7 linked regions of the Homo sapiens genome follow. The protein of the gene in region 7 interacts with the protein of the main gene of each other region in a biochemical or structural test. Each region holds a gene or a part of one and is shown on either strand. Other genes may lie near its edges. The genes, in order: UBE2K, UBE2D3, USP4, UBE2D1, ANKRD1, USP33 and TRIM63.

Region 1 (3,500 bases), on a different chromosome or scaffold from region 7:
ATCAGGTAACAATATGGAATTCTAACCAAAAAAAATGAAGATATAGGCCGGGCACGGTGCCTCACGTCTATAATCCCAGCACTTTGGGAGGCCAAGGCGGGCGTATCGCGAGGTCAGGAGTTCGAGACAAGCCTGGCCAACGTGGCGAAACCCCGTCTTGACTAAAAATAACAAAAATTAGCTGAGCATGGTAGTGGGTGCCTGTAATCCCAGCTACTCAGGAGGCTGAAGCAGGAGAGTCACTTGAACCCAGGAGGTGGAGGTTGCAGTGAGCCGAGATCGTGCCATCGCACTCCAGCCTGGGCAGCAAGAGCAAGACTCCGTCTCAAAAAAAGGAAGATGTAACCTGTTCTTTAGGGATTTTGGTTTAAAAAATCGAGAGGATTTACTGTATTTTTAACATAGGTTTGAGAATATAAGTGGAGAGCCCATTTGCTGGCAGGCACTTACGAATGTTAATGTGAGTCCCACTGGATGGTTTTCTGAATCATTTAAGGTTATCATGGCTCTGAGAATGGACTGTCATAAGGTTAAGAGACTCAGTAATGCTATAGATAGGAAAGTACTTGGAGTAGTTTAAAGTGCAAAATAAGTCAATGTAGATAAATTTAAAGTAGAAATCTGGTTTTTTGAAGTAGGTAGTTGCCGTTTTAATAAACTAAGCAGAAAAACAAATTGAAGAAGGCCTTTTCTTTTGAGGCATTTAGTCCTCTGGAATTTTTCATGGAAAGGAGAATCTGTTAGGTAGCTAGAGCTTTCACCATTCTGGTGGATAGTGTACTATTTCAGTCAGTTAAACTAAACATTTAAAGTTGTTATGGTTAGTTCAAGTGAGAGTTTATGGCCTAAATGGCTTTTAATGACCCTGAATTTTCTGTTTAAGCAGAACCCATGTATCGTGGGGGTATAGTGCAGAATATAATATCTTAGTGTTCATCTGTGGATGATTAGATTTATCGCTTTGGGCCTGATATACATGGAATTGGCAAACATAAAATAGCTTTTATACTATTTTTCCCTAATAACATTCCTAGAAAGTCAAGAAGCCATTGTATTGTTGTTCATAGTGGTGTTATTTCGTTTAAAACAATGAAGTTAGAATTTATTAGTTTGTTTTAAATATTCTTAAAACTGGATAATTAAGTCCTAGAAAAGCCGAGACTTATTTTACTAGAGCAGATAATCAAGCTTATGAAAGAGGGGGTTTCAAGATTTTTTATAGGTAATACTTTAGGCGTTTTTCTTGCTGACATAACTAACATTTATTTTCTGTTTATTTTTAAGACGAGCAAAAATCAAATTAAAGTAGATCTTGTAGATGAGAATTTTACAGAATTAAGAGGAGAAATAGCAGGACCTCCAGACACACCATATGAAGGCAAGTACTTTTTTCTGTATCAAAATATTGTGCGTATTAGAACTTGTCTGAAACATTTAATCAGAATAATCTTAAACATCTATAAATTATATGGAGGGTAACTTCATTTGGTTTAGATAAACAGCAATTTAAAAAATACTAAATTTAGATACTGAATATAGACTGGTATTTCTTACTGAATTTTAGCTAATTTTTTTCTTTCCATAAAACAGTTTTAGCAGAGCTTTGTTACAGGTATTATAGGTTAGAATTTAATAGAATAAAAGATCTGGCATGGTAAACCTCTAAATCATATGGACTGTAGACACTCAGTTACCCTTCATATGGTATCTAAAACAGACCTTGCCTTAAATATCTCATTGGTAAAATGTTGCTTTTGTTTTTAAAGTTCTTCTTTCTGTCATTCAGCATTTCATTCACTCATGTCTTCATACAGGCTGTAGTCCAAATGTTTATTTTCTTTATTCAGGAAAGCTTTTAGTGATTATTTCAAGCCATAGAAAGGAGGTGGCTTTGCTGAACTTGGTGTTCACAAATTAAGTCTGTAGCTACTTTAGACCATGGAATCGGGTGGTAAGATACAGAAATAAACCTTATAGCATTTTACTTTCTTATTAGGTGAGTCTTCATTAATTAATATTACTGTAAATTTAGATTATATAGCATATAACCAAGGCTCTTGCATTAATAACTATTCAAATATTTGTTTATTAGAAAACATATAACAATATATGGTAACCCTAATTATACAGTCTTTACATGTATTTTCTCATTTAATCCTTTCAGCAAATCTTACTAGGTAAATACAACGATTGCTGTTTCATAGATGAAGAAACAAGTTAAGAGAAGTAACTTGTTTAAGGTCAACCATCTAAGTAGCACAACTGATAGCCTTTGTCTTCAAAGCCTGTGCTTTTAATCACTTTATGTAAATCAGAATTGACTTAATATTGGAAGTGGTGGTGATGTCTGTTTTGTTTTATCTATTTTTTTATATGCAAAGTTTTACTGTTACCCAAGCTGGAGAGCAGTGGCATGGTCATAGCTCATTATAAATTTGAATTCCTAGGCTCAGGTAATCCTCCAGCTTCCTCAGTAGCTAGTACTACAGGTGCATGCCACCATATCCAGTTAAATACTTTGTGTGTGTTTTTTGTTGTTCATTTTTTGATTGTTTGTTTTTTGAGACTGAGTCTCTCTGTCACCCAGCCTGGAGTGCGGTGGTGAAATCTTGGCTCACTGCATCCTCCATCTCCCAGAATCAAGTGATTCTCCTGCCTTAGCCTCCTGAGTAGCTGGGATTACAGGCGCACCACCATGCCGGCTAATTTTTGTATTTTTAGTAGAGACAGGGTTTCACAATAACGGCCAGGCTGGTCTTGAACTTCTGACCTTAGGTGATCCGCCTGTCTTGGCCTCCCAAAGTGTTAGGATTACAGGCGTGAGCCACCAATCCCGGCCACCAGCTAAATACTTTCGAGTGGTTCTATAATTCTGTAATGAACAGTTACCCAAAACACTTTTTTTTTTTTGAGATGGAGTCTCGCTCTGTTGCCCAGCCTGGAGTGCAGTGGCGCGATCTCGGCTCACTGCAAGCTTCGCCTCCTGGATTCACGCCATTCTCCTGCCTCAGCCTTCCGAGCAGCTGGGACTACGGGCACCCGCCACCATGCCCGGCTAATTTTTTTTGTATTTTTTTAGTAGAGACGGTGTTTCACCGTGTTAGCCAGAATGGTCTCGATCTCCTGACCTCGTGATCTGCCAGCCTCGGCCTCCCAAAGTGCTGGGGTTACAGGAGTGAGCCACCGTGCCCGGCTACCCAAAACACTTTTTAAAAATCTAATATTCTTGAATATTTTCTTGTTTTTAATCCAGATTTTTTAAGACCCTAGAATGTCTTTAGCATATTATACCAATTCTGTTTATTCATTTTTTTTTTTTTTTTTTTTGGGAGACAGAGTCTTGCTCTGTCTCTCACGCTGGAGTGCAGTGGTACGATCTTGGCTCACTGCAACCTCCGCCTCCCGGGTTCAAGCAATTCTCCTGCCTCAGCCTCCCGAGTAGCTGGTACTACAGGCGCCCGCCACCATGCCCGGCTAATTTTTGTATTTTTAGTAGAGGC
Region 2 (3,500 bases), on a different chromosome or scaffold from region 7:
AAAAGGTTCCTTTCTCAACAGGGTGTCCTTGCAAAGATAATTTAATGTTTGGCAAACTGAGGGAAAAAAATTCTCAACTGCACCAAACTATTACTCAATGCTCCAGAATGAACACGATATGGAAAACTAATGTTTTCCTTAGTATTTATTTCCGCATAACCATCCACCGTTAGTCTGTATCTCATTATTCGTACGTAGTGTGAATCCAGTACTATTTTTCAAGTTACATGGCCTGAGAAAATGATTCTATCCCACAGCAAGACTATTTACTGGACTGGAAATCAATTTCCAACGACACCCATACTCAGCATTTTTAAAAGTAATTTTGTCTACGATAGTCACCTAACAAAATGTTTTTAGAGCCTAAAGTTTCACAGGCTTCAGGGACAAAAACACTAAAAAATTACACAATTGAAATTTTCAGCTTATTCCTTCCTAGCAGTCTAGAGGAAGAGGAACAGTGCCAAGAACCAGAAGGAACAGCTCTCACACGGCACCTGTAAAATTTTTTTATACTGTGCTGACTACCCCTCACCTAAGGGGAACAGCATTACTCAACTATTAAGGCCACTGAAACAGGAAAATGTTTGGTTGGGGACACTGACTTACTTTAGGAATTGCTCAAGGTTCCACTCACGTTGAAGGGACACTAAGATCAAGCACATACAATCAGGGTACAACACTAAGAAACTGTACTAGCTATAAAAAGAACAAAAGGTTGGACATTTCTTTTCCACAGAGTGCTCTTTTAGGAAACTTTCTCCTTTTAGTGTCATCTTCCTCTGAGCTGCTTCTCCTCAAACTTTCTGCACACTTGGCTAGTGTGAGAATCCAGACCTTCTCACTGGAAAAAATACTTGTATTTAAAAGCCTTAAAAAACCTATAGGAAAAGAAGTCAAGGAGACCCCTCTGCCTTCTTTCTAAGCTAGGTAAATGAGACCCTCTCAAAGCTCTCACATGGTCTAGTTCGCCTCATTAGTTAAAACACTACAAAGAAATTTGAGACAGCAACAGACTTTACACAACTGAGTTGTTTGCCTATTTCCTGAAGACCTGGTGGGCACCATGGTAGAAAATAGGGCAGGATTTTTTTCACCAAAAAAATCTCTCTAAAAGGCAACCAACAGGTACAGCTTAAGCCACTGGTGAGTGTTCTCATCTGGAAGTACATGATTTAAGCAGTAATGGGTTTGGTCACTATTTTTTTTTTTATTCTGAAACATTCCTTACATGAGATTTTTAATACAAAGCCTGCAAATGGTTTATCTTGAGGAAGACCTTTACTGTAGTCACTATGGGATATGGGATTTAACAGTTGATTGTTGGAGATGTTAAACTATGCTTTCTGCTTCTCTATTCTCTATCTTCCTCATTCAATGATAAGTGGTACTAGCAGTGGTGACCAACCACAGGCTACAAAGAACAGTAGGCCAAGGTATTGAAAACATTAAAGACCTGAAAGGATGCTAGGAGAAACATAAGAATGTCCCCTCCCTTGCTGGGCGTGGTGGCTCACGCTTGTAATCCTAGCACTTTGGGAAGCCAAGGCAGGCGGATCACCTGAGGTCAGGAATTCAAGACCAGCCTGGCCAACATCGTGAAATCCCATCTCTACTAAAATATAAAAATTAGCCGGGCATGATGGCGGGTGCCTGTAATCCCAGCTACTCGAGAGGCTGAGACAGGAGAATTGCTTGAACCCAGGAGACGGTGGTTGCAGTAAGCCGCAGTTGCGCCACTGCACTCTAGCCTGGGCAGCTGACCAAGACTCCGCCTCAAAAAAAAAAAAAAAAATTCCCTCCTTTCAAAGAGCTTATAAATTGGAAATACTAAAAATATTTATTCACAAATATTTATGAATATTATGAATATTCATGAAGCTACAGAGCAGCCATGTTCCAGGAGCCCAATAAGTATCTGAACATTCGGTTAACTTTCTTTCAATGACAGCCAGTATCTGTTCATCAGATCAACATAACCAAAAGGTAGCATTTATGAAAACAAGGTTTTAAGTGTCAACCCTATTAAAGCGTAACGCCATAAATAACTTATTCTAGGTTTCATCCCCCCAAGGCTTGTCAAAATTCAAAAGCCTATATAGTGGCAAGGCCAAGTTCATGGATTCTACCTTTAAGACAGTAAAATTATCACCACGATGTTCCACAAATCATTTGTTATCCCAATCTCTACCATCTATTTTGCACGTCATCACACAAAGGTCATACAGAGGACAGAACGCAGTAGTATAGATACATTTCCTCTCAGCACTTTCCGGAAAACTAAAAGCTTATGCCATTACTAAAGGTTAATTTCTTGTATTCTATTTGAGAGTCTATTTCTTTCAGAACTAAAGACAAGATTTACATGACTCAAAAGACAAGATTTGTATGACTGTGAATCAGCATTATAAAAACAGCCCTTGCCTCAAAAACCTATACTGAGCAACACAAAACACTGCTTTGGGGACTGGAAGAGATGATAAAATGAGGTGGGAAACAAAGGGAGTAAGTGCCTTAAGAAATTTTAAGAATCATCCTCAAGAAGACTTTACAACCAACCTAGAAAAATACAAAGGTGCGAACCAACAATAGAGGTCGAAGTGCAGTGCAATTAGCTGTCCATCAGGCAGACAGTAACTACTGTAACTGTTCATATAAAGATCTGGTTTACTATAAAGTTTTATTAACTTTAATGTTATGAAATGTCTGTATAAAATATGTAGATGCGAATATCAAGGCAGGGAACAACAAACTTCAGAAACATGGTTATTTCAAGAGAAGGATGCTTGGCAAAAAGATATGAACAATTTCACAAAACTCCAAATAGTCCCTTTAAAACACATTTTAATTTGAAATTTCTTCTGAGAAATCCTTTTTTATCTTAAGGTTTAACAGTAGGCACTGCACAGTATCTCACTGCATCACTGACAAGGTATTAACTTCCTGTTTAGTCGTAATTATAGGTGAAACAAGCATGCGTGTTCATTACACAAGGTACTAAGAATGGATTGAATATTACTAATTTTCTTTCGATCACCACTGAAGGTAAAGTCACTTAACATTATTCAAAGCCATTCTTTTGTAAGCATTATTTAAAAATGGGCAAAGAAACCCAAATTTAGATTTGAAGCTCTGCTCCATGAAAGCAAGAAGGGTGTTTTATGGACATTAAAACAAACAAAACAAACAAACAAACAAAAAAAACAAAGATTAACAGCCAAACAGCTGCCCAGTAGTAGAAAACATTCAATTACACATTAGCCATGAAATTACAGCAAGGTTAGGATTAATGTAAGTATTTCATACTGAAAAAGGTACAAGAAATCATGATTCACAATTGACAAACATTTAAATACGACAAATTCAGCTATGAAAAGTTGAAGGTCTCTTTTACAATAGATTATGTTGAAAGTATCATTAGGAGATAAAAATCAGATGTTTCAACAAAGTATAAAAATACTTCCCTAAACTTTTCCCTTCCCTACATAACAAGGTTGAGG
Region 3 (2,205 bases), on a different chromosome or scaffold from region 7:
TATCATCAAAGTAATACCATTTACCATTCAGTTTGTTCTTCGCATATGCAGTGTCTGCCAAGTCAACAAAGAAAATACTCTAGCGGTCTCCAGAGAATTAATCTGGCTAGCTTATTAGGCTTGCACTAAATAAACACAAAAATCCCCAAAACAAAACCCCTGAAATTAAAAAAGTTTACAGTGTGTGTCTTAACAACCAAAAAACAACTCACCTTCTTTTCTAATCTGTTCCTTCTCAAAAAGGATCAAAAGGCTAAAAATGGAGCTGTCAGGGACCAAGATTTTAAACTATAATTTTGGGAAACTAATAGAAAAAACAGAGCTATTCAGTGCCAATCTTCAGGATGGCTATGTGCAATAATCCAAAACCAGGGAACCCATAAAAGGAGCTGAAACTTCTAAGATTTAAGCAAAACAATAGCTCTCACAAGGACATGCCAAGTCAGTCTCCCCCATTGCATCTAGGCAGGTGGCTACTAACATCAACAGAATGCTTAGTGCCTCGGGAGCCTACAGAATAATCCCAGTTAGAGGAACATTGGGTGTTTGGGTTTGCAGAGCTGGGATGTGAACAACATACCTTAGTCTCCATATCCAAAAAAAAAAAAATTTATCTTTCTCTAAAACTAGGAGTCCAGAGTCTGTGGTTAGGTAACAGTTTCCCACAATGATTCAAGCATTTCCCAGAGGCAATGCTTCTTGTCTTGACTTTACACTATTCCCAAGCAGGATGTGTTTATTACAGCAATCCCAGCCCAGTTCCTGCTCCACCCAGACTCTCAGAAACTACAGAACCCAATGGAGATCTGATATCCAGTGTCAACTTACTGTGTGGTTTTAGGTAAGGTGTTTAACACTTCAGCCTCAGTTTCCTCACTATAGCATTGACTGCACAAAGTGGTGGTGAGGATCATGGGAAAGGGCAACAGAGAAGGTGCCCAAGGCCAGTTCACACAGTCTGTGCTTGACACAATAGCAGCAACGGTGGCTTTCAATTTTGAAGTTCCAACTGTAGGCCCAATGTGGACCCTCACACAACCAGCCTAACCTCATGGATGAGAAAACTGAGGATGAGAAACTTGCCCAAATGGTATGTTTGTGTGCAAAAATTAGCAAATAAAAATGAACACAGGCAGGGCACGGTGACTCACACCTGTGATCCCAACACTTTGGGAGGCCAAGGCAGGGTGGTTCGCTTGAGCCCAGGAGTTCAAGACCAGCCTGGGCAACATGCCAAAACCCTGTCTCTACTAAAAATACAAAAATTAGCCAGGTGTGGTGGCGCACACCTGTAATCCCAGCTACTCGGCAGGCTGAGGCACGAGAATCGCTTGAACCCGGGAGGTGGAGGTTGCAAGTGAGCCGAGACTGCGCCACTGCTTTCCAGCCTGGGTGACAGAGTGAGAATCTGTCTCAAAAAAAGAGCAAACCAGCCAGGCACAGTGCCTCACACCTGTAATCCCAGCACTTTGGGAGGCCGAGGCGGGCGGATCACGAGGTCAGGAGATCGAGACCATCCTGGCTAACATGGTGAAACCCCGTCTCTACTAAAAATACAAAAAATTAGCCAGGCGTGGTGGCGGGCGCCTGTAGTCCCAGCTACTCAGGAGGCTGAGGCAGGAGAATGGCGTGAACCTGGGAGGCAGAGCTTGCAGTGAGTGAGATTGCGCCACTGTGTTCTAGCCTGGGTGACATAACGAGACTCCGTCTCAAAAAAAAAAAAAAAAAAAGAATTAAAAAAAAACAGAGAGGGGAATCAGTATGAAGAAAGCGTGCAGCATGAAGCCTGTGAAACTGCATAAGCAAAGCATTTAGGGCAATGCCTGGTCCACTGGTGAGAGATGATGGCCGAGCACATTTCAACATCTCAGAAGGAAGCAGATGTCAATACTTACAGTGGCCAACCCCCATGGCTCCATAATGATTGGACACGGCAATGAGGTCGTACACATAAGGCCTTGCTGACAGGTTACAGACAAACTCGGACATGTTCAGCCCTCTGAGCACAAAACACAAAAATAGTTATTGAATATGTTAAACCCAAACAAAGTAGTTAAGAGTAACCCAGCAACCTCTGTTATGCAACAGGGCAGAACACAGGGAGGCACTCAAACTATTCGAGAGAGACCAAGATGGAAGGGACTCTAGGATCCATGTTCTGACCACTGACATATTCAGGCTAGAAAATGGGGCTGGGTGTGGTGG
Region 4 (3,500 bases), on a different chromosome or scaffold from region 7:
TTAGTAACTAATTAAAAACAAACAGAAATAAATGGATTCTTATTGAAAGTTGTTATATAAATACATTGTATTTTGCCTTTTTAGAAAAACAAACTTAATAAAACAATAATTTGAGACAACTGCCCAGAGTACTGCTTTGAAATTCAGTAGTTTTGGTGTTTTTTAAAGTTAAACACAAGGTCGTATGATTAAAAACTCTGTAACTCACTAGATAAAGCTCTTTCAGGGCAGGGAGAAGAGAATGGTGTTCATGGAAACATGTTACTTATGTACTCTCACCCAGAAAGTAGATTTGAGCTGTCAGTGCTCATTCTTATGCAATCAGATTTTTTGCTCATAGAAAGAAAAAGCCTGTTTCAAGTCTTGTAACTGCCTCTAAAGTATTGAAAGAAATAATTTTAACAAAAGTAATAAGTATTGAGAGTAGCCAATTATCAAACAGCAGATAATTTTGTGTTTAGGACAATGCAACAAAATTAAAAGCAGCAAATTTATAAGGAGGTAAAGACAGACCCATTGTAATATTTTATTGATTCTCTTTCACAAAAAAGAACAGTGATGAAACTTATGGCAAACTGACACTTGTTACTTGTAGGAATTCAATTATTGGCTTCATTAGACTAATTTCTAACCTACCAAAACTGTGGATGTGAGAATGATTATGGTTAATTACAACTAACTCTCTGTGACTTAAAAAAAAAAAAAAAAAAGATAAACACACAGCCTGGTTGCGAGCTGTGGCACTCCATTATGTGTAATGATCTAGGATTCAGCAAAGGAAAACATAATAGTGATCCCAGGAAATATTTGCCACCAATGCTTTGGAAAATCATTGTAAATCCTTAATAATATTTTGCTTCCTAGGTGATTCAAAGTACAAGAATATTCAACCTTCATCACAAACATCTGATCAAAGGTGAAATGGCAAGAATGAAGTATGGCTGAGGGGGTTAATTTCATAGATATGAATCATACTTACAGGCCCCATAATAGTGGCTTGCCAGTGGAACACTGAAACAAACAAAGGAGTTTTGGAGTCATTAACAAATGTTCAAACCTATATTTTTAAAGGTAGCATAATCCCAGAAATAGAGCAAGGCTTACAGTCATCTCCCACAGGTCCAGCTGAACAGTGAGCAGGTGGATCGCGCTGTAGATCACTCAATTCCTGAAGGAAATCAAAAATATGTAAGGTTAATTCCTTCTTTTCCCAATGAAACAAGGGTAATGATCCATTAAGATGCAAACTATTAGCTTTAAAAACATTTAAAGCAGTTCTATTCAAAATATAAAAACATAAATTGTACTCTGTCATTGACTGGTAGAAAGAATAAGGTACTCAATTCCTCCATGAGACAGCTTCAGACCTTGAAAAGATTAAATGGAAAAAAAATACTGTTTTTCTTTAACATCCCTAAGAGAAAAACTATTTAATGAGTACCTACTGTATGTAAGATAATTTATGTAAATGCTAGGTTGATAATATATCAGAAAACAGGTACTATTTTAACAGGTTACAATCTATTGAGGGAGCATGAAGGCTCAGAAAGAATAATACTTCAGGATAACTTTTTTTTTTTTTTTGAGACAGGATCTCACTTTGTCGCCCAGGATGGAGTGCAGTGGCACGAAAGCTCACTGCAGCCTCAACCTCCTGGGCCTAAGCGATCCTCCCACCTCAGGCCCCCACTCCTACCCCGAGTAGCTGGCACTACAGGCATGTGCCAGCACACCCGGCTAATTTTATTTGTAGAGATGGGGTCTCGCCATGTTGAACAGGTTGTTCTCCAACTCCTGTGCTCAAGTGATCCACCTGCCTCGGCCTCCCAAAGTATTGAATTACAGGCATGAGCCACTGCACCCAGCTCATTTAAGGACAACTTGAAATGGGAAATAAACGAGCAGCAGTCAGGCCATGTTTTGAAACTTAGAACATTGATTCATACCCTGTTTCCTGCCCTCAAGGCAGCAAAGATCACAGAAAGGACACAGCTTTAGAGTTCACCCCGCCCCTGGGTTGTAATTCCAGTTCTTTCCATTTTTCTTCTTTTCTCTTTTTTGGATTTTTTTTTTTCCTCTAACAGAGAGAATTCCAGTTCTAATAGATCTCACTCTTTGGCCTTGTGGAAGTTACTTCACTTCTTTAGCCACAGTTTGGGAGAAACTGATCATCCCAAAGAAGAAAGGCATACATTCAATATAAAGGACTATAACTGAAGAACTTAATTTAGTTTGGAAGATCAATAATCATCTCTGAGGAAGTGACATTTAAGCTGAAATCTAAAGGATGAGTAGGAGTTACTTTTGGAGGAAAAGAGTGATACTGGGAGGCAGAGTGGCAGAGGATGAGGCTGGAAATGTGGGCAGAAGCCAGGCAGGAAACAGACAACCATACAGACCACATTAATGATGTGGTGTTTTATACCAAATGCATTAGGTAGGGGGTGAGGGAGGTCTTAAGAAGTGGCATGTTCTGATTTAATGGATGGTTGTGACTGGATTAGACATGGGAAAGAGGAGAAGCTACAATATTAGTTGCTGCATAGGCAAGAAAAATGGGGGCTTAGATTGGAGAAGTGGCAACAAGATAGAAGTGGTAGATGTGAGATACTCTGAAGGGCCTATCTATCACAGGAGTTGATGAATTACATGTGCAGAGGAAGGAGAGAAGTCATAGATATGTATGATGAAGATTAGGGACAGCTAACATTTATTCAATGTCTTAGTCATTCTAACAATCCTCAGAGATAGGTGTTATTATGTTCCCCATTTTACAAGTGAATAGTTAAGGTGACATACTTCACTGCATGCTTGAGTAACTACTATAGGGCGGAACTGGGATTCAAACCCAGGTGGGCGATCATCTCATGTTTTAGTTCCACAAATGTACGAATGTGGATGCCATTCACTGAGATAGAGAACAATAGAAGACAAACTGATTTGGAGAGTAGATATGTTGAATCTGTAATCCTTGTGATATGAAGAAACAATGTGGTTCAACATACAGGGGTGGACCTTAAAAAAGGATAGAAATTGGAAAATCATTGCATATATCTGATATTTAAAACCATGAGAATGATGTAAACATTTTTGTGGGAACACACAAAAATAAATATGCACTTAATCAAATCTAAGATGTCATCAACTGTACAGCACATCCTTATTTTAAGTACCAATAATTAAGAAAAAATGCTGCCAATTTATTTTAAAACACCATCAATTGTAAAATGCATCCACACTTTAGAAAAGTTAAAATGTGAAAGATGTCCACCTTAGAATCACTGCAATAAGGTAATTATGGCAATGAGTTCAGTGCTCTAATAGAGACAAACAAGAAGGAGGGTGTGACAGGGAAAGGCCTTCCTAAGAAAGTGATAAATGAGCTGGGTGACTGAGCCAGGTACAAACTCAGGTCTCCTTCTAAGCTCAATGTTATTTTCCAGTATACCTTGGTATTTTCATTTTTGTTTTGCTTTTTTTTTTTTTTTTTTTAAATAGCT
Region 5 (3,246 bases), on a different chromosome or scaffold from region 7:
AAACACCATCTAATATAAGCTTAAAAAATATTGCCCAGAGGAACAGGTATAAATTTCTGAAGAAATAATTTTAAAGAAGCTTTTGAAGAATCACTTTACAAAAAAGAGTGGGGGGGGGGGGAGGGAAACTCAGTCATCATATAAATGCAAATAATTTTCTCCCCTTATTTGTGTTGCAAAGACTGAGAGGAATATCTTATCTTTTAAAACAAATCTGGCTTGGTGACAGGATCAAAGAATGGTGATAAATGAAGATTGCTTGGGATGGGAAAGTGTTAACAGTAGGGCTTCCTCAGTCTAGATATTGGAATTGATCCTATCTAATATTTTTTTAAACTATCAGAAAAAGAGCAGGTTAAATGAAATCTTGAAAGCTGCAGAAAATGTGAAGATTTTTTTTCAGGCAGTGAGACACTACCAGCAGAGACAAATAGCATACAGGTTTAGGGAGACTGTGTAAGTAGCCAGAAAAATCACAATATAAATTTCAATGGAGAGAAGTGCAAGGAATTTATGGAAGAGTAGCCCAAAATATACAAATACGGCTTAGGGTTCTGAATTATCAGTTAGATATTAGCATCAGGTTTATGGAACTATTAATGTCATTGACCCAATGGATTGATGTTTCCCCCAAAGATCAATAACCTATTGATGCCATCTTAAGGAGATTGGGAGCAGCATACAATATTTTCTCATTATCCAAAACTGTATATTCATGTCTACTGATGATTGTTCCTAGAGAAAGACACTACAGAGGTGGGGAAGTTCCAAAATGAAGGTTATAGGGCCACTAATTTAAATACCTACAGATCTCATAATCTGACTGCAGACTGACCTCACTGTGCCGGGCAGATGGCCTAAGTGACTTCAATGTGTGGCTGTCAGGGTCTGTGCACATAACTCTTTTAAAGGTGGCCCTTCCCCAACCCAGTCTATGTTGCTCTGTGGAACCATGGGTACCATGTTTTTAACTCTTCTGATTTTTTCATAGAAGTCACAAATCCAGCTCTTGGTTTCCAACTGTTGCCAATTCATACTAATCTTAAAAAAAATCTAAGTTCTGTTTGGGTCAAAACAAAACAGGTCTCTATTCTGGTTTGCATCTCAAAGCTGCCAATTTGCAGTCGCTGGGTTAAAAAGAAACTTCTCAATGAATAGAGATGGAAAAATTTTGGACTTCTCAGATCTATAGATGAGAATTGAGAGATGACATGGTTTTAATATTTTTAAATCTTGAGACACGTGCATAAGGGAAATCAAAATTTCGTCTCAAAAATTATTTGTTCACATGTGTCATTGCCATCAACTCCAAGAAAAATACATTTCCTGGGAGAGTCCATTGAAAATTCTGACAAGTTATGAAAAATCTGCTCCCAGGAACAGTAATAGTACCCAAGCAGTACCTAAGTCCTTAAGCCAAGTTATTGATGCAGCTCATTTACCATCATTTCTTATCAATCAAAGAACTATCATTCAAATGGATAGGCACTGATTCTTGGTCCAAGAGGCATGCTCCCACCTCCGGGAGTCCATTCCACAGGATACTGGAAGATGTATGGAGACATTTTATAAATTTCAAAATGACTTGAGGTGCTCTTGACACATAGTGTCTAGGGACAAGGGATTTTACCAATACCTGGGATGGTCCCACGTGAAAAAGATTTTTGCTCTAAAATGGCAAAAGCATCCCTCTGAGAAACAGTGAAGGACTGGTTTGAGTATAAACTGCAGATCACTCCTGGTGGAAACCATAAAACACTGTTATAACATATACCTAATCCTTACCTCATGAAACACACACAGAGAATGTGAATTTACAGATGTCACCCACCTGAAAGTCAACTTTCCTTATCTCATTTGATTAGGCTGGGAAGACGCCGATGGATCTGGTGCTACACTGGCAGAATGGAACCAAAGCAATATTCGACAGCCTCAGAGAGAACTCCTACAAGACCTCTCGCATAGCTACATTCTGAGGCAAACGACAGACTCTTAATCAGTAAATGTTCACTGGCATTTTGAAGGCATGGCCCAAGAGAAGAGACACTAGCCATAAAATCTAGTTTCTATTTATCAACGTGTTGTGAAGATGTACCTAATGAAGTTTTGAGAAAGCACAGGGTTATAGGTGTTTAAATTTCCTTTAGTGAAACTCTTATTTATTTTTATGTATTCCTGTTTATTTATTTACTGCCACGCTACTGATATTCAGACCTTCATGATCATCCATCTGGTGAGCAGAGCTTCATTTGTATATAACACTTTCAGAGCCTTCCCACCCATAGGTAGTTCTTAAACCAGGTGAAAGAGCAAAGTTCAAGTGCCTACTTATGTGTCATTCGCTCATGTAAGAGTTTTTAAGAGAGGGCTGATTATCACAGCCCTCTTTTCTCCTGAATTTTTAATGCAGAAGTTTGAATGAAGCAAGGGAAGGCATGTAGGGACAGGAAAGGAAACAATGGAAGGAAAGTGATTCTGTGAAAAGGACAGTGAAGCCAGCTATTTTACCCCCAGGCTGGATTTTTTTTTTTTTTTTTTTTTTTTTTTTTTACCGAGTACACAGAGTACCCAAGTGAAGAGAACGTCATGAGTGTAAGTGCAAATCAGTGGAAGGAGCGGCAAACTGGGACATGCAGAATTGAATTTGCTCAAAAAAGATGAAAGGAAATGCAAACTGTAAATGTATAAATGTATATTGTATTGTATGTACATTTTATATTCATAATAAAGGCAATCAAACTCTAAACCTCTAAGTCCTTCTATAAGTGTGGTGGAAATGTCCTATGTGAAAAAAAAAGCTATATAGGAGGGTTTTTTTTTTCCATTGTTTTCCAAGTTTTGCAGATTAGAAATGTCCCGTACAACAGCACTCCCAGTATTTAATATGTATACAGATCACCTGGGGATCTGGTTAAAATGCAGATTTCTGATTCAGCTGGTCTCAGGTGGGGCCTGAGATTCTGCTTTTCTGACAAGCTCCCAGGTGACAGGCCACGAAATGCCACCACCACACTGAGCAGCTAGGCCGAGAGCCATAAAGACACAAAGGAATTCTAGCGAGCTTTCAGTCCCAGTGGTGTGTAGAAAGAGACCCCTGGTGGTCAGAATGATTTCTGCATGGTAAACCCGCATTTCTTACGAAGTTCCCATTAAGGCTTAACTAGTGACTTTTTTAAATTTAAATTTTAAGTTCTGGGGTACATGTGCAGGATGTGCAGCGGTGTTACATAAACGTGTGCCATGGTG
Region 6 (3,500 bases), about 52 Mb from region 7:
AGGGGCATGAGGATCGCTTGAGGCCAAGAGTTCAAGACCAGCCTAGGCAACAGAGTGATACCCACCCCCCATCTTTACAAAAAAAAAATAATAATTTTTTAATTGAATAGAGTGGTGAAAAGGGGAAAAAATAATAGCCAATCTTAATGTTCGCATAAAATAAGTAGATTATATCTGGAATACAGTATTTTATTTAAGAAGAATACTAAAAGCTACAGAATAAGAGTGCCTCTCATAGAAAACCTTAAAAGAAATAATTTGAAAACTGTATCTTATAAGATAGCACTGTACTAAGAGTAAAGTTTCTGGAGCAAGGCTCCACTATCTCCTAGATTTGGGACCAGTGGTAAGTTTCTTCTCTTTGCCTTAGCTCCCTCATCTAAAACACTGATCTAATTACAAATATCTACTTTCTAGAGTTTTGGAGAAGATTAATATATAATATTTTAAACTAATTATATAATTACACATAATACGTTAATATATAATTACATATTATATATTAGTATATATAAAATACTTAGAAGAGGGTGATATAGTAAGTACTCAGTAAATGTCAACCATTACGAACTGAAAGCATGGATGTTTAAACAGCAGAAGGCAAAAGATGCCAGGACTTGATACACATGTTCCAATTGAACATGATGACCAAAGGGATCCTTTCTTTTCTGTGCAACTTGAGAAAGTCAGAACAGCATATTCAATCAACGGTGAAGACTTCGGTTCAAATACAGATGAACTTTCATGGAAGGAGCATGTTCCCCATAATTGTTACACAGAGGTTGGGTAACTGTCAGAGGTGCTTCAAAGGACAGCAAGCACTTTGCACTAAAAACTCAGAATTGAATTAAGATTCTATGATTATAAAAAAATTGATTTGTCTTTCAACAGTTTCAATCTAGACTATGGTTCCACGAGTACTAGTCCAGCAGTACCATATGAAATATTACACTTTAGCAAAAATACAATGAAGGAATAAGCTTATGGCTTATCTTTCCATATTTATCATGGAAGAAAATTGCTACCCAATAAAAGCAAGCCAAAAAAACTGATGAATGGAAGGAAGTTATCAATGAAGAGTGCAACAACAAGCAGAAAAGTTTATTTTATTCTCAATCCATAGTAAGTGCTCAGGGAGACTTTTCACAAAAGAAATCAGCTGACAAGCATTTTAAATAACTGTTTCTTTCCCTTTAAACAAATATTCTGAGAATAAAATCATTCAAACCTCTGTGAGGATTTGAAGATCCCACAAAGTCCTATAATACTTACCTAATCATTCTTAATTTTCATTCAAAACCACAACACAGAAAAAGAAATGTAGTGCTAATCTTTTTATTTCTCTTTTACTAGAAAATCTGTCTCATTGATCCTTAAGAGTCTAATTAATGAGAGCCTTAAGGCTATTAAAAGAAATACGCAGTCTTCTAACTGAGTTCTCTGGCTACAACCTATGTGTTCTACAATCTATTCTTAACATTACCACTATTAATAATACCAAAGTATAGCTCCAATCTGGCAATCTTCATTCCAAATAACATCCTCTAAATGAGATTTGTAAATATTAATTAGCATTTCCTATAAAGATTTTTAAAAATCTGTCCAATAATGAATGGCAAAATATGGTCAATTCTAGCCTTATCTCGTTGAAATAATTTTGAGAAATATTGGAAGAGAGAGGAAATAGAAATGAATTAATGAATATGACAGAGTTCTAACAGAGTCTCAAATAAGCTGATGATAATTTTCACTCTAAGTCTCACTTTTGAGCAAGATGAAGAGTTAATATACTGGCATTACGGAACAGTCATTAAAAATATTCATGTAAACCACATAGAAACATGGAAAAACCTAAATCTTCAGTTCAGCTTGTGAGCAAAAAGAAAAAAGAAAGAAAGAATATGAGAAAACAAATGCTATCACCATATTCAAATGAGAACCACCATAAGAAAAATTATCAATTCTTTTATTGTTTACCAGACTATAATATTGATTTTAAAACTAATCAAAACTGATTCATCTAAACACAGTAATGCTTCCATAAAAAATATAAGAAATTCCAGCCAGACATGGCAGCTCATGCCTGTAATCCCAGCACTTTGGGAATCCAAGGTGGGAGGGTCACTTGAGGTCAGGAGTTTGAGACCAGCCTGGCCAACATGGTGAAACCCCCATTTCTACCAAAAAATACAAAAATTAGCTGGGTATGGTGGCGTGCGCCTGTAATCTCAGCTACTCCAGAGGCTGAGTGGTGAGAACTGCTTGAACGCAGGAGGTGGAGGTTGCAGTGAGCCAAGATCGCACCACTGCACGCCAGGCTGGGCAAGAGTGAGACCCTTTCACAAAAAAGTAAAATATATAAGAAATTCCTCTTCTAGGATTTTATAAAAGTTAAAACCTGTGGGAAATGGTCTTATTTTAGGTCACATTCAGCCCTATAGTTTCACCACATTACTGTATTTCAGGACTGTGATAAGCCCTGGGGGATAGAAATTAATTTAACAAATGCTTATAATCCAGCATGGGCCAGACATTATAAGTTTGTGGGGATGGCAGCATTGTTCAAGTCTCCACCCTGCTTTCCTTTTGAATGACTGGTCATCAACACTCTTATCATCACTCTCCTGAATACTATGCAATTTTTTCACTTTCCTTAAAAAACTAATTTGAAAGTCAGTGTCCTTCTGTCAACCCTTCTTTTTCACAAGTTAACTAACTTTTAAACCTCAGTACCATCTTAGATCCCTCCTTACTTTTTTCATTTACTTTTTTTGAAATGGGAGGCTCTCTATATTGCCCAGGTTGGACTTGAACTTCTGGGCTCAAGCAAATCTCCTGTTTCAGCCTCCCAAGTGACTGAGACTACAGGCTCAAGCCACAGCACCTGGCTCCCCTCCTCACTTTCTATCAGTTTCTAAATTCGGCATTTTTTTTTTTAACCACATTTCATCTCACATTTCTTCTAGGTCTCTATCTAAATTGAGGCTTTTATTTCACATCTGGATTATTCAATGAGAATGCCTGTTAAGACACAGAGTTGATACCTGGACCATCTCCTTTCAGCTCACTTCAATGTTTACTTGTAGCTGGTATGCACAGTTAACACACTGACAACTTCCCATCTCAACTACTTCTCTCCTCAGCTCTCCAGCACCTCAGGAGCTTGCCAAGCCCTACCTAACCAGTGTACCTGGGAAGTTCTGGGAGCCTTTTAGATAAAGGCAATCTTTATCAGTGAGGATTGACTGTAGATGGAAAACCACCCAGCTCCCCTTCATTTGGGGCAGTTATACAAAACTCTGAGGCAGTTATACAAAAATCTCCAAAGGCTTAAGCAGCCTCCAGTTGGCCTTCCACTATTAACCTTTTTTCCTCCTTCTCTGATTCTACCTGCTTCCTCACTTGTGCTTTATAGCATCTCACCTGCACCCATGTCATCTCAGGTCCAAGTTCAAGATGCACTTCAGAGAAACCATAAGGGCTACAAAAATAATGGTCAC
Region 7 (3,415 bases):
AGCTAGGATTGCAGGCATGCGCCACCACGCCCAACTAATTTTGTATTTTTAGTAGAGACGGGGCTTCACCATGTTGGTCGGGCTGGTCTGGAACTCCTGACCTCAGATGATCTGCCCTCCTTGTCCTCCCAAAGTGCTGGGATTACAGGCATGAACCACTGCACCTGCCCAGCCTTAATCTGCCTCTTCTTGATGATTTTCAGTGAGCCTTCAGTGAGCCTTCAGTGAGCACGGGGAAGTCCCTATAACCTGCAACTAAAGCATTTAAATTTTGCCTCAGGCTCTGTTTTCTGGAGAACCAGAGCAACAACACATTGAACCTGTTCTTGAAGGACCAGCTCAGGGCTGGCTTTCCATGGAGTCCACATTGGGAAATGGTGGTGTCGAGAACTCCTTTACTGGGACCTAAGCCTAGCCCTGCCATTGCCTCCTACCAGGGGTCCTGTTCATTCACACTCAACCCTCATCTCCAGGAAAAAAAGGCTGAATGAAACCCCGGCTCCTTTGAAGAACAGGAAGAGAGCATTGTGCATTTATTAAAACAACATATAACACAAACTCAGTTACCACCCCGTATGTCTGGGATAGGCACTGAAATACAGCACATCGTCCCTGTGAGTGCTACCCCATCCTCCTGCTCAGGAAAGGAAGTGGGCAGCTGTATCAACCTGGCTTCCTTCCCCTCTTTCTGACAATCGCAGGTCACCCAACGACCAGGCATTATTATACAAAAGTTCCTTTACAAAAAGCACCAAATTGGCATACATATACAAGTATATACAAAAATCACATTTTAAAAATGTACAAAATATTCCATTTTGCACCAATGTAGAAAAGTGTCCTGTGTGATTGTTTCAAGCACGTTTCCAATTCTGGTTCAGTGTCTGCTGGACGCAGCGGTGAGGGTCCTACCCTAGTCCCTGCTCTCTGAGCAGAGAGAAGACATCACCTCCCCATTGCCCCTCCAGGGGCCCCGACCCCTCCCACCCTGGGCCTGTCACCAAGGCCGCTGGGCCCCTCCCCACCCTCTCCAGTCTCTCTGCATCTGGGGGCCTCTCATTCATCCAGCTCCTTACTGGTGTCCTGAAATGAAGAAAAAGATACAGAGGCAAGGGGTGAGACAGGGACTCAGGAGGATCCAAGGCTTACCAAGCTACTGTTTATTCAAACAGGAGTTTGAATAAAACATCAAACTCCAATTCCTCCCGGTCTCTTCCTTTTAAAACCAAAATAGAATTTAGCTGCCCAAATATTATGGATTGTACATCAGTACAAAACTCCAAAAGACTACCTATAGTTTTCAACTGGATTGGAATTTAGTTTCAGTACCTGTGGTTTGAAAAATAACATTTGCAAGCATGTGCTAATTAGCAAACGTCCTTCCTATGCATCAGACACCGTGCTAAACGATTATCTTATTCACTTCCCACTACAACCTTTTGACGTCAGTACTGTTAGACCCCCATACACAGATGAGTAGCCCAAGACTCAGAGAAATTGTGAGCTGCTGTGATTCAGAACCCAGGCTCCTAATCAAACTCTGCCAGGCTGGCAAACTCAGATGCCTACAAGGAGCCAGCAGATAACATGAATGAGTGAAGCAAGCGGGACTGGTGGTGGTGGGGCTGGGCAAACTGGCAAGGGCATGTCCCATTTTTCTTTTCTTTTCTTTGTTTTTTTTTGAGATGGAGTTTCACTCTTTTGCCCAGGCTGGAGTGAAGTGGCGTGATCTCGGCTCACTGCAAGCTCCGCCCCCCTGGGGTTCTAGCGATTCTCCTGCCTCAGCCTCCCAAGTAGCTGGGATTACAGGTGCCCGTCACCACGCCTGGCTAATTTTTGTATTTTTAGTAGAGACGGGGTTTCACCATGTTGGCCAGGATGGTGTCAAACTCCTGACCTCAGGTGATCCGCCTGCCTCGGCCTCCCAAAGTGCTAGGATTACAGGCGTGAGCCACCATGCCAGCGTGTCCCCTTTAAAGGGGAGAGCCACTGCCCAGAGCCAGCACTCTGGGACTACAAGGAAGTTCAAGTCCAGCATTGTTTGCTTTTTCTAAACTTTCACAAGGTGAAAATGCAGATTCTTAGTTCAAATCTCCTTTTTCTTAACCCTTAAAAAAAACCTAATTTTAAAAATGTTAGCAATTAATTTTTTCTTTTAAGAGACAGTGTAGTGTCCTCTGTTGCCAAGGCAAGAGTGCAGTGGCGCAATCATAGCTCACTGCAGCCTCTACCTCTTGGGCTCAAGCAATCCTCCAGCCTCAGCCTTCCGAGTAGCTAGGACTACAGATATGTACCACCATGCCTGGCTAATTTTTAAATTATTTTTGTAAAGACGAGGACTTGCTGTTGACCAGGCTGGTCCCAAACTCCAGGTCTCAAGCAATCCTCCCGCCTCAGCCTCCCAAAGTGCTGGGATTATAGGCACGTACCACCACACCCAGCCAGCAAGTATTTATTTATTTATTTTTTGAGATGGAGTCTCACTCTTGTCACCCAGGCTGGAGTGCAGTGGCACGATCTCGGCTCACTGCAACCTCCACCTCCCAGGTTCAAGCGATTCTCCTGCCTCAGCCTCCTAAGTAGCTGGTACTACAGGCGCCTGCCACCAAATTCAGCTAATTTTTTGTATGTTTAGTAGAGACAGGGTTTCACCATGTTGGCCAGGCTGGCCTTGGCCTCCCCAAGTGCTGGGATTACAGGCTCGAGCCACCGTGCCTGTCCAGCAAGTAGTTTTGTTTGTTTGTTTGTTTGTTTTAATTTAAACACAGTGCTGGCCAAACAAAACACCTCAATGGGCCCAGCCTAGCTCATGAGCCCCTGTCTTTTCCCTCTGCTGTGCCATATTGCTTTCCATTTAAGAAGATCATTTAGATGTGAAATGGGAGCATTTTATTATGAATAGTTTGGGGTTTTTTTCTTTTCTAAGGGTAAAGAGAACAGGACTTTACCCTCAGTAGGGTTAAAGCACGTGCTGGGGACAGTTCTGAGCGTCATTGCCAATGTCTAACACAGTGCTTCACATACAGTAGGCACCTCAGATTGTTGTGGAATGAATGAAGGAACGAAGGAATGGAGGTAGATGAATTTCTTACCTTCTTCCTTCCCTTCTGTGGACTCTTCCTCTTCCTGATCTTCTTCTTCAATGAATTCTTCCTCTTCCTCATCTGTGACAAAAAAACATTTGTGTTAGGATGGGGCCGGTTCCTTGAGGAGCTACTTGAAGAGGAACCAGGCAAGAGAGAGCACGGTCTAAACCCCTTCCTGTGCCCAGTCGGGTCAAACGGCCACACAGCGGCGGCAGTGGTCTGGGAGGGGATGGGCTTGCCAGACCCACGCTGCACAGAGGCCCTGCTCCTGCAATCCCCCGCACTCCGTCCCAGGGAGCTGGGCTCAAGTCACTTCCTTGCTCCAGCAA

Evidence for each region.
Region 1: the proteins of TRIM63 (region 7) and UBE2K form a complex in vitro, tested with the Homo sapiens proteins (one study listed by BioGRID).
Region 2: the proteins of TRIM63 (region 7) and UBE2D3 form a complex in vitro, tested with the Homo sapiens proteins (5 studies listed by BioGRID).
Region 3: of the proteins of TRIM63 (region 7) and USP4, one has a biochemical effect on the other in vitro, tested with the Homo sapiens proteins (one large-scale study listed by BioGRID).
Region 4: the proteins of TRIM63 (region 7) and UBE2D1 form a complex in vitro, tested with the Homo sapiens proteins (3 studies listed by BioGRID).
Region 5: the proteins of TRIM63 (region 7) and ANKRD1 form a complex in vitro, tested with the Homo sapiens proteins (one study listed by BioGRID).
Region 6: of the proteins of TRIM63 (region 7) and USP33, one has a biochemical effect on the other in vitro, tested with the Homo sapiens proteins (one large-scale study listed by BioGRID).

What each region holds. Positions count from the first base shown.
Region 1 is NC_000004.12:39,736,136-39,739,635, forward strand, and holds part of UBE2K (ubiquitin-conjugating enzyme E2 K), read left to right. Parts: intron 1-1,284; coding exon 1,285-1,378; intron 1,379-3,500. UniProt on the Homo sapiens protein: Accepts ubiquitin from the E1 complex and catalyzes its covalent attachment to other proteins. In vitro, in the presence or in the absence of BRCA1-BARD1 E3 ubiquitin-protein ligase complex, catalyzes the synthesis of 'Lys-48'-linked polyubiquitin chains.
Region 2 is NC_000004.12:102,817,552-102,821,051, forward strand, and holds part of UBE2D3 (ubiquitin-conjugating enzyme E2 D3), read right to left. Parts: intron 1-3,500. UniProt on the Homo sapiens protein: Accepts ubiquitin from the E1 complex and catalyzes its covalent attachment to other proteins. In vitro catalyzes 'Lys-11'-, as well as 'Lys-48'-linked polyubiquitination.
Region 3 is NC_000003.12:49,278,849-49,281,053, forward strand, and holds part of USP4 (ubiquitin carboxyl-terminal hydrolase 4), read right to left. Parts: intron 2,000-2,205; coding exon 1,896-1,999; intron 55-1,895; coding exon 1-54.
Region 4 is NC_000010.11:58,359,006-58,362,505, reverse strand, and holds part of UBE2D1 (ubiquitin-conjugating enzyme E2 D1), read right to left. Parts: intron 1,169-3,500; coding exon 1,105-1,168; intron 1,012-1,104; coding exon 980-1,011; intron 1-979.
Region 5 is NC_000010.11:90,911,596-90,914,841, reverse strand, and holds the end of ANKRD1 (ankyrin repeat domain-containing protein 1), read left to right. Parts: intron 1-1,865; coding exon 1,866-1,976; 3' UTR 1,977-2,746; downstream 2,747-3,246. UniProt on the Homo sapiens protein: May play an important role in endothelial cell activation. May act as a nuclear transcription factor that negatively regulates the expression of cardiac genes. Induction seems to be correlated with apoptotic cell death in hepatoma cells.
Region 6 is NC_000001.11:77,753,353-77,756,852, forward strand, and holds part of USP33 (ubiquitin carboxyl-terminal hydrolase 33), read right to left. Parts: intron 1-3,500. UniProt on the Homo sapiens protein: Deubiquitinating enzyme involved in various processes such as centrosome duplication, cellular migration and beta-2 adrenergic receptor/ADRB2 recycling.
Region 7 is NC_000001.11:26,050,801-26,054,215, forward strand, and holds the end of TRIM63 (E3 ubiquitin-protein ligase TRIM63), read right to left. Parts: intron 3,165-3,415; coding exon 3,093-3,164; intron 1,084-3,092; coding exon 1,073-1,083; 3' UTR 501-1,072; downstream 1-500. UniProt on the Homo sapiens protein: E3 ubiquitin ligase. Mediates the ubiquitination and subsequent proteasomal degradation of CKM, GMEB1 and HIBADH.